Regions from separate parts of the Homo sapiens genome. Here region 1 is linked to region 2. Evidence: fine-mapped expression QTL. A gene starts in region 2. The other region holds a variant in brackets. All regions are shown on one strand. Distances are from middle to middle. Region 1 has its middle 7.3 kb from the start of SUN2. Region 2 holds the start of NPTXR (neuronal pentraxin receptor).

Region 1 (5,371 bases), 81 kb before region 2:
AGGGGATAGCAGCGAGAGCGCTCAGCTCACTGGTGGGGAAGCTGCCAGATGAACCAGGCCCCCTGCGTGGAGACAGCTGGCAGAGCCGCCTCTGGCCATCCAGCCCTGTCACTGCAACCTCCAGCTCTGTCCCTTGGGCTAGCTGGAACGCCATAGCACAACCCGAGTGCCCCCGACCCCAGTAAAAACTCCCCGGTCTACCCACCTCTCCCTCCTGCAGGGCTGCAGCCCCCAACCCCTGCTCTGGTCTTGGCTTTTTTGTCTGTAGAGCAGGGGGAGTAATTGTCCTGCTCCCTTCCCTGCCAGGTGTCTGTGGAGGCAGAGGAGGTGGGAGGACCCTCTAGGCCTTCAGTTCTCACAGCAGTGTTGCTGTGGGTGTGGCCTGTGTGCTTCCCATGCAGGGACACTCAGCACCCAGCTGTCAGCACTGCAGCCTGTACGCAGTGAGTCACTGAGGGTGGTCCCCAGGGAAGCCGGAGGGCTGGTGGGCCTTGGTTATGGCTGAGGGCATTTGAACCTGGGACCCCAGTTCATTCAGTCCTCCTTTGTGCCCACTGCCCCTCCCCCAGTGCCTCTGTTTCCCTGGGGACGGTGCTTCCCGACAGCCAGAGGGATCCAGGTGTAGGGAGTCTGGGTGGGTGGCCTTGATGGCACATAGCTGCATGTGGGCAGCTGCCCAGCTCGGCTTGACTCGGCTCTGCAGTCAAGCACGTCGGGCGGCACCTCCCAGGGCCCTGTCCATGCACCTGTGCGTCATATGCAGGACGGCCTGCGGCTGCCAGCCCGGGGCCTCAGGGGCTTGAGACGCAGGAAGTGGCTCTGCGGTAGGGCATAGTGGCCAGGAGCTGTGGGCTGGAGAGGGCACCTTGTTGATGCTGAAGGGAGGGACGGTGGGGCAGGATCAACTGAGCCATGGACCAGGGCTGTCCCCTCCCCTCCATGTCCAGGAGAGGCTCACCTCCAGGTGGGTGTGAGAAGGTGAGAGTGTGTGTGAGTGTGAGTGTATGTATGAGAGTGTGTGAATGTGTGTGTGTATGAGTGTGAGTGTGTGTGGGGAGTGTGTGTGAATGTGTGTGCGAGTGTGTGAATATGTATGTGTGTGTGGGGTAGTGTGTGGGAGTGAAAGTGAATGTATGTGTGCATGTATGTGTGCGAGTGTGTGTGAATGTGTGAGAATTGTGTGAATGTGTGAGAATTATGTGTGTGAATGTGTGCATGTTTGTGTGACTGTGTGCAAGTGTGTGTGTATGAGTGTGAGTGTGTGTGGGGAGTGTGTGTGGGGAGTGTGTGTGAATGTGTGTGTGCGAGTGTGTGACTGTGAATGTGTGAGTGTGCGTGTGTGAATGTGTGAGAATTATGTGTGTGAATGTGTGTGCATGTTTGTGTGAATGTGTGAATGTGTATGTGTGTGAATATGTGTGTAAATGTGTGTGCATGTTTGTGTGAATGTGTGTGCAAGTGTGTGTCTGTGTGTGAACTGATGCCTGCTCTGGCGACCTCTCCTCTGTTCCCTGGACTGGCTTCCCGAGCTTGGGCCACACGGGCTCTGAGGGTCCCCTGGGTCATGGTCTTCCCTCTCTTCTTTGAGTCTGGGGTGCTCGGAGCTCCCCTGTTTTCGCCTCCTTTTCTGTGCCCAGGTTCTTTTCTCGGTGACCCCATCCTCCTCTGTTTGATTCTCAACGGCTTGGCTCTTAGGGCCAAGGTGGCTGCGGTGATTTGTAATTCAGGCAATTTCTTAATCTTCTCCTTCTGGCCTCTCCCCAGGCCAGCCCCCACCCCTCCTCAGCTCCCTCAGCGCCAGGTTCCTGCCCCCACCCCATGCCCACCCAAGTCCTGCCCAGGACATGCTTTTTGGATCCTGTGCCCCCCTCTCCCTCCCACAGGCTCAAACCGTTCCCCCTGGGACCCCCTTGGCACAGCCCCGCCTCCTCCTCCAAGACAGACGGGCCTTCTGCCCCCATGGGGCCTCTTGCTACGCTGTCCTCTTCTCCAGTGAGCTTCAATCCCTGAACTTGACTCTGGATGGTTTCTGCAGCTTCCTGGCTGCCCCCTCCCCTCCTCTCCGCTCCAGCCTCCACAAAGCTGCCAGGCGGATGTTCCTGAAGCAGGGGCTGGACCCGGCCACCTGCCTGCAGCCGATCATCCGTGCATGGCTCATCAGCCCCACGGCCAAGTCCATGGCCTGGAGGCCCCCGTGACACGGCCTCTATCTGCCCCTCTGCCTCATGGCCTCCCCTCCCCTCCTTCCCCGCTAACTGTGTAGAAAAGAATGAATGTAGCAGGCTGGAGACAAAGGCCTGCTTG[C/G]AAGGCTGGCCCTGGGCTGGCATCTGGGAAGCTGGATTTTGGGAGGATTCCCACCATTCCCTAAGAAGACCAGCTCACAGTGCCAGAACTGTTTCTACACACAGTGTGTCCACGATGCACGCCGGCTTTCCTTCTGGGGGGCTGGAATTCCGGTACGTGCCAGGCAGAGGGTGCCCATGAACCAGCCCCTGGGCTGAACCCCGGGCACTGAGTCTCTTTTGGGTGTCCCGTGTTGTCACCACTTGTTCTGGAGGAATTGATTACATCCTGGTAACTCCACTGGGTCCGCTGGGGGAAGATTTTTTTTCTTTTTTTTTTTTTTTTTTTCGAGACGGAGTCTCGCTCTGTCTCCCAGGCTAGAGTACAGTGGCCCAATCTCGGCTCACTGCAAGCTCCGCCTCCTGGGTTCACACCATTCTCCTGCCTCAGCCTCCCGAGTAGCTGGGGCTACAGGCGTCTGCCACCACGCCCAGCTAATTTTTTTTTTTTGTATTTTTTGTATTTTTAGTAGAGAGTAGAGACGGGGTTTCACTGTGTTAGCCAGGATGATCTCGATCTCCTGACCTTGTGATCTGCCCACCTCGGCCTCCCAAAGTGTTGGGATTACAGGCGTGAGCCACCGCGTCTGGCCTTTTTTTTTTTTTTTTTTCACCTTTAAGCTCTGTTGGACTTGAGGGGAAAAGATTCTTTTTTCTTTTTTTTTGAGACAGAGTCTCGCTTTGTCGCCCAGGCTGGAGTGCAGTGGTACAATCTTGGCTCACTGCAACCTCCGCCTCACGGGTTCAAGCGATTCTCCTGCCTCAGCCTCCCGAATAGCTGGGATCACAAGCATGTGCCACCACACCCAGCTAATTTTTGTATTTTTAGTACAGACAGGGTTTCGCCATGTCAGCCAGGCTGGTCTCGAACTCCTGACCTTAGTTGATCCACCAGCCTCGGCCTCCCAAAGTGCTGGGATTATAGGCATTAGCCATCGCGCCCAGCCAGTCCAAGGCTTCTTGACCAGGGCAGCTGAGGTGGAGGCTCCCCCACCTTCTCTCATTTTTCATTATTAGCCTCGCGAGCGTGTTATAAACAAAGGCTGATTTTCACGCAGTCTTTGGGGAGTCCTCCTGTCTGTGAAGCAGAGTGACCCTGAAGGTCAAGCTGGCGACAGTGGGCAGGAGGCCTGGCTTGGTCCACGTCCGATGGCAACACTACTCCACCGGACAGGGGTTGGGGACACTCCTCCTTCCACACTCTTGTGCTGGAAAAGATGCCAGGCTGGGCAGCTGGGGAAAGAACCCCAGGCAGCTGAAAAACAATCCCGGCTTTGGCTGTTGGAAACACCCCCAGCTTTTTTTTTTGTTTTGAGACGGAGTCTCGCACTGTCATCCCGGCTGGAGTGCAGTGGCGCAATCTTGGCTCACTGCAACCTCCGCCTCCCAGGTTCAAGTGATTCTCCTGCCTCAGCCTCCGGGGTAGCTGGGATTACAGGCTCCCACCACCACGCCTGGCTAATTTTTTATTTTTATTTTTGTATTTTCAGTACAGACGGGATTTCACTATGTTGGCCAGGCTGGTCTTGAATGCCTGAGCTCGTGATCCACCCACCTCAGCCTCCCAAAGTGCTGGGATTACAGGCGTGAGTCACTGTGCCCGGCCGGAAACACCCCCTGCTTTTTAGTCCTTGGGGTGGACGATGCTGTCCCAACCCTCAGGAAGGACGCTGGGTATCGGGGCCACAGGGATCTCTAACTGAAGCCACCCTGGCCTCAGCCTCAGTGACCCTCTGCCCTGGTGAGAACTAGAAGGGGACTGTCCCTGCAGCAGGATGGCCACCCCGACCCCACCAGCCATGCCTCAGGTGTGGGAGTGGAACCTCGTCCACAGAAGCTGCCCCTTATGCGTTACAGGACCTCATCAGCCACCCACCTCTCAGAGGACAAGAGTGTTTGTGGGGTTACTACGAAGGTTAAATGAAATTATTTTTATTTCAAATGATTTTTAAAAAATCATTTAAAATATTATGACTTGGCTGCGTGTGGTGGCTCATGCCTGTAATCCCACCACTTTGGGAGGTCAAGGTGGGCAGATCACTTGAGGTCAGGAGTTCGAGACCAGCCTGGCCAACATGGTGAAACCCCATCTCTACTAAAAGTACAAAAATTAGCCGGGCGTGGCGGTGGGCGACTGTAATCCAGCTACTCGGGAGGCTGAGGCATGAGAATCACTTGAACCCAGGAGGTGCAGGTTGCAGTGAGCCGAGATCATGCCACTGCACTCCAGCCTGGGCGACAGAGCAAGATTGTGTCTGAAACATAAATAAATAAAATAAAATAAAATAAAATAAAATAAAATAAAATAAAATAAAATAGTATGACTCAATGAATAATCTGTGCCGCACATTTTAGCATCAAGAAGGGGTGGGGCTGAGTATCCCTGGGCCCTCCCCAGGCCTAAGACTCTGAGTCTGTGTCTAAAGTCCTGGGAACCTCACTTGTGGTGGTTCATAGACATCACCAGGTCATGGACGGTGACAGAGGACAGAACACCCCAGGGGAGGCTCTCACCTGCTCTCTCAGCGCTCAGGAGAGACGAAGAGGGGTTTCTGTTCACCTCCAGACACAGGTGCACACACACCCCACACAGACACATACAGAGATACACAAAGACATAGACACACATACATTAGAGACACACAGACACACTTGGATACATCGAAACACACACACACACAGACTCCTGAGGAGCTCTGCTAGGCCTTGGGACCTTGAAGGTTCCTGGAGAAAAGGTAGGAAAGGGGCTCCCCCAGGCCACTTGGGGTAACAGTGGGGGGCTCACCATGTAGCCCTTGCAGCCACTGTCACCCTGGAAGTGCTCAGATTGGGAAAGGCTCTGTCAACCTGGGGAAGGGGCCACAGGGGACTCCAGTGGGGCTCAGTGGGGCTCAGGGGCCACCCAATGAGCTGGGAGTCAGTAGCCCCTGCTCTCATCCAGTGCTCTAGGACAGGCTACAGGTAGGTGGGCTGGTTGCTTGCCAGCCATTCTGACCAACTACTCAAAGCCCAAACCTCTCTGAGCCTCA
Region 2 (5,371 bases):
CGTTTCTGAGCTGAGTTTTCTCATCCGTAAGGTGAGGGGTTGGCTGCAATGGCTGACTGGCTGCACTCTGACACCCTGTGGGGAGGGTGCTGACACCAGTACAGACGTCCTGGAGGGCTGTCAGACCACGACATCCTCAGCCTTGTGAGTGGGCATCACCAGTGCTGCTTGCCCAGGATTTAACTTAAAAAGCCCCGGGAGTAAGGGGTCCCTGCATTTACTCCCCGCCTCTCTCCTCCCTCCAACTTGCCTGCTGCACTCCACCTGGGTGGAGGTAGCAGAGGGGGCAGCGCGGGCTTTGGCCTCTTTCTCTCTCTTCCTTCCACAGATCTGATTTTGTTGCTTAACCCCCTTCCTTGTGGTCTGGAAGTCAGGCCATGGCTGGGGTAGTGAATGTGTCCCGGATGTTTGTCCTGCCCAGTCTGTCTGCCTTGCACTTCTGGGAGCCCCAAATTCATTCTTACAGGGAGGAAGGTGGCCATGGGACTCCAGGGGGGAAATGACTGGCCCAGGGTCACATGAGAGCCAAGAGTGGGTTCCCCCATGCTGGACCCCTTGTGTCTGACCCCAAGCCTGAGTCAGGAAAGCCTGGAAAAGTGAGTGGAGGAGGAGGAGCTCGGGGGGCCCTGTTCTCCATTCAGCCCCCACCCAAGAGCTGTGGGCTTCCAGGTGTGTGAGGCTGGGCGCCTGGCACCTGAGCTCCTGCGGTTTGGGTCATAGTCTGAGCCAGAGTGGGAGATTCAGGGTAGGGAGGTGGTGAGGGGCACCCAGGTTTGTCTTATAGGGCACTCTGTTCCCGGCTCTGTGTAATGAGGGGAGGACCCCAAGTCCTTTGGACAGCGCATCCATCTCCTGGCCATAAAGTGTGAGCGTGGAGCTGGGCTGATTTGGGGGTGTCCGGAAGAAGGAAATGAAAGGGACATTTAATGAGGTCCTAGTACGTGCCAAGCATTTTCACACACCTACATTTGATTCAATTTCCACTACAAGTGGACACTGTTATACCTATTTTACAGACACAGAAACTGAGGCTCAGAGAGGTGCCTGGAGACGGAAAAGGGTGGGGAGCGAATCTTTCTGGCGCGCCCTCTGTGCCTCAGTCACCGTGCCAGACGCCTGCCCGCGTTCCCTATCGAAATCCCCCCGCCTCGCCAGCGAGGAAGGCGCGATCGTCCCCGGAACACAGACGGGAGACCGGAGGCTCGGGGACCGCCGGACGACCGCGGCCGGGCGGCCCCTCACACCACCCGGGCGGCTCCCCCGACGGCGCGCGGCGCTCACCTCCAGGCGGTCGATGCGGTCCCGCAGGGCGCGCACGGCGTCCTCCAGCTCCAGAATGAGCGCAGGCGAGTCCCAGGGCCCGTCGGCCATGGTGTCGCGGCGGGGCCCGGCGCCCTGGAGGCCGCGCGGCAGGCCGCTCTCGCAGCGGCCCAGCTTGCCGGTGAGCTCACGGATGGTGTCCTGGTCGGCGCGGATGCGCGCCTCCTGCTGCAGCGCCGTCTGGCGCAGCTGCTCGGCCGTGCTCTGCAGCAGCAGCAGCTCTTCGCGCTCGCCCGGCGCAGCGCCCGCCGCGTCCCCCTGCTGGGCCCCCGACGGGCAGGCAGCAGCCAGCGGCGTGCACAGGAAGCGGCTGAACAGGGGCCCGGGCGGCAGCGGGTGCGCGCTGGCCGCGGGTGCCCCGGGCAGCGCGGGGGGCCCGGCTGAACCGCCCGCGCCGTGCAGCGCGCTCAGGCTCCGCTGCGGGCCCGGGGACGCGGCGGCGCCCGAGGCGACCGAAGCATTGTCGGCGCCGCCGGGCAGCGCCCGCGCCGGGCTGGCCGCCAGGGGCACGCTGGCGATGATGCAGATGACGGCACCGAGGAACGCCAGCATGCCCGCGGCCAGCAGCACGGCCAGGAACTTCAGCGTGAGGCGGGCGGCGGGGGCGCCCGAGGCCCCCGGCAGGCGCGGCGGCGGGGTCGGGGCGCGGAGCCCGGGCGCGCTGGGCCGAGCGGGGCAGGCGCGGGAGCCGGAGCCGGAGCCGGAGCCGGAGCCGGAGCTGGAGCTGTCGCCGCGGCCGCTGCTGCCGCCGCTCTGAGCCCGGGCGGCGGGAGGAGGAGAAGACGGCAGGCGGCGGGGAGGGGGAGCGGGCGCGGCGGCCCCGCCCCACTCGCTTCCCCGGGCCGGCCCTGGCCCCGGCCCAGCCCCGCACCCGTTCAGTGCCGGGCGCCCGGCTGGGGGCGCCGCCGGGGATGCGGCGAGGAGCGAGGGCAGCGCCTGGGACCTTATCTCGCCGCGGTCACAGCGCAGGGGCCGGCGACCCGAGGGCCGCGCGGCGGGGCTCCTGGGTGACCCCCATCCCAGCCCTCCCGTGCTCGGGCCCCCTCCCCAAGCCGGTTATGTTCACATCCACCCGGGAGGGAGCTTTCTTCCGGGTGGGGCTGTGCACTGGGCGCGCCACAAGCTCGGTCGCAATTGAGCCTTGCCGTGGACAGGCTCACAATAGAAATGAGGAAACTGAGACACCTGAGGTCAGGCCTCTGTCCAAGGTCACCGGGTGGCTGCGTTGGAGCCGCCTGCGAGCTTAGGCACGTTTCACCGGACCAGACTGTGGATGGGGCTGGAGTGGGAGCGGTTAGAGGTGGAGAAGAGGCCAGTGTTGGGGGTTGGGGGGAGGCTCGGATTTTGACCTAACTTCTGTTTATACTGTGGCCACCTGCCCGTCACCCCCACCTCCAACCTTCTGAAGGAGCAGAGTTCACTCCCCGCCACCCTCATTACAGAATCTTCCTGTGATCTCAGAGGATGATGGAAATTCTCTCCTCTGAATCCTTGGGGGCTTAGAGCCTCACAGGTCCAGAGAAACCCCCCACCCCCACTGCAGTCTGCCTTCGTTGGCAAGCGGTGCCACGTGCCTGGTGGGCATGTGGACCAGGCCCAGAAGGAACAGCAGGAATGGGAGTGGGCTGTGCTGTGGGGGTGGCAGAGGAGCGTTTTACTTTCTTCTGTCAAAAATGTCTATATATATTTTGTTGAAAATTAACTTTGCAATTAAAAACTTAAAAACAATCCTACTATCCTCCACACTTTATCCCCAGCTCCAATTTTCCATGAGGTCTTTCCTGACCAATACGGATTCCCAGGGCTGGAAGGGCCTTGGGAGGGCTGTGGTTATTCCCAGCTCTGTCTCCCTTCCAAGCCTGCATTTTTGACTTGAAGGGAAAGCGCAAACCAGGATCTCTGGACCACCACGGCTACCACTGTGGTTTCGAGTGTACTTCACATAGCGCTGGTGGTGGGGAGAGACCGGAATGTTTCCCAGGAAGCCACAACCCTGGGGGACGCTCTCCAGCCACGGGGATTTTGTCCAGTGTTCCCAGGCACACGTGCTCCACCTCCCTCTCTCCACACATGTTAGGATGATGTCCACCCTGTTCACCCATCTCTAGGAGCCAGGGATTTTCATCCATACCTGAGTTGTGAAAGAGGAGAGAAGCAAACACAAGCGCTGTATGCCAGGAACCTGAGTGCTGTGTGTGCGTGGATGTGTGCTGGTGCTCACTGAAGTCGTAACCTCAAAACCCAGGGCAGGCAGCTGGGCTTGGAGGAAGCATCTCATGGACAGAGAGATGGGCTGGGCTCTTGGAAGGCAAAGGCCAGCGGTAGGCCCTGCTAAAGTCCTGGGGATGCATGAGACATCGGGACTCCTGGTACATCTACACGTGTGCCGTGAAGACAGAAACACGGAGATAGCATCCCCAGGAGAAACTGTCATAGGAAGTCCAGGGAAGGACAGGAGATGCCAAGAGAGAGGGCTGCTGCCAAGAGCAGCAGAGCCACTGTGACTTGGGCACCAAATGGTGCCACCTTTACCTGAGCTGCCCCCTGAGACTTTGGGGACAGTTTGGATAAATGGGTCCAGAGGCTGGAGTCAAATTGTGTTTAAACTGGTCTGTTGATCTCCTAGAATGACTTTATTTTTTATTTTATTTTATTTTTGAGACAGAGTCTTGCTCTGTCACCCAGGCTGCAGTGCGGTGGCGTGATCTCGGCTCACTGGAACCTCTGCCTTGCGGGTTCAAGCAATTCTCCTGCCTCAGTCTCCCAAGTAGCTGGGACTACAGGTGCACGCCACCACGCCCAGCTAATTTTTGTATTTTTAGTAGAGATGGAGTTTCAATATGTTGGCCAGGCTGGTCTTGAACTCCTGACCTCAGGTGATCCACCTGCCTCGGCCTCCCAAAGTGCTGGGATTACAGGCGTGAGCCATGGCGCCCAGCCTCTCCCTTCTTCCTTGGCCCATCTCTATCCCCAGCATTCAGCATGAAGCCTGCCCAGGGAAGCTTCTCGGTGAATGTTTGCTGAACTAGTTCCTAATGCCACTGCTGGAGGCAGAGGAAGGAGGAGAGGACAGAGAAGTCCCAAAACTCGTCTCTCCTGGGTCCTGGGAGAGACCCCCCTTAATCCTAACACAGGATTCCTCAAGGGATGGGCAGAGAAGTATTCTCAGGGGAACTTCCCTAAAACTGGAATAGTTCCTATATTTTCCCTCTGAATTGTCATGACTCCTAGTTTTTTTTTTTTTAAATTTCTTCACTTTCATTCCATTCTTAGGCCAAGGGAATTCTGCCATATATAACAAATATAGGAATTCATTTTAGAAAATATGTTTTGAGACCTACATTGTGCCAGGCATAGTGCCAAGCATTGGAGAGAGCTGGGAACAAGACAAGCTCACGCAGTTTATATTCCAGTGGGGAGGCAGGCAGTAAACAAATGAATAACTAAGTAAACAAGTTAATTTCCAATAATGATGAGAATGACAAAGAAAAATCTTCAAGTGATGTTATAGAAAGTTACAGGAAGTAGGAAGGGGGAATTGGGAGGTGGGCAGTATTTATAAGGTGGTCAGAAAAGGCCTGCATTGGAGCTCAGACCTAAATGACCTGGGAAACCAGCCATGCAGAAGTCTGGGGAAAGATGGTGTGTTCTAGGCAGAGGGAACCGCTAGTGCAAAGGCCCTGGGGCAGAAAGGAGCGTAATATATTTCAGGAACAGAAGGAACAGAGTGGGGCTAGAGGCAGAGTGAGATGTAGGGGAGGGAGGAAGCTGGACAGGAAGGTGGGGGCCGTGTAGAGATTTACAGGCTCCGGGAAGGGAGTGGGTCTGACTCGAAGCCCAACTGGAGGGCTGAAGCACGGAAGTGATATCACCTGGACTGTGTTTTTAAAAGACCACTCTGGCAGTTGTCTGGAGACTGGGTTACAAAGAGATAACAGAGGGCCGGGAGCGGTGACTCATGCCTGTAATCCCAGCACTTTGGGAGGCCAAGGCGGGTGGATCGTTTGAGGTCAGGAGTTCTAGGCCAGCCTGGCCAACATGGTGAAACCCC

What was found. PIP is the estimated chance that this variant, and not a neighbour inherited with it, causes the effect. A credible set is the group of variants that fine-mapping cannot tell apart.
Region 1: its variant is the best candidate, but not a certain one, in a credible set for the expression of NPTXR in whole blood (TOPMed, PIP 0.53).

The regions. Positions count from the first base shown.
Region 1 is chr22:38,760,627-38,765,997 of GRCh38, forward strand. No RefSeq gene overlaps it. Among named protein-coding and RNA genes, the nearest start is that of SUN2, 7.3 kb to the left of the region's middle. RefSeq lists enhancers at 1-414, 245-294, 895-944. The variant C/G (reference allele first, on the strand shown) is at 2,305.
Region 2 is chr22:38,841,954-38,847,324 of GRCh38, forward strand. It overlaps NPTXR (neuronal pentraxin receptor), which reads right to left and starts at 2,075. Exons shown (of 5, transcript NM_014293.4): 1 at 1,282-2,075. The coding sequence starts at 1,905. RefSeq lists a silencer at 1,594-1,663.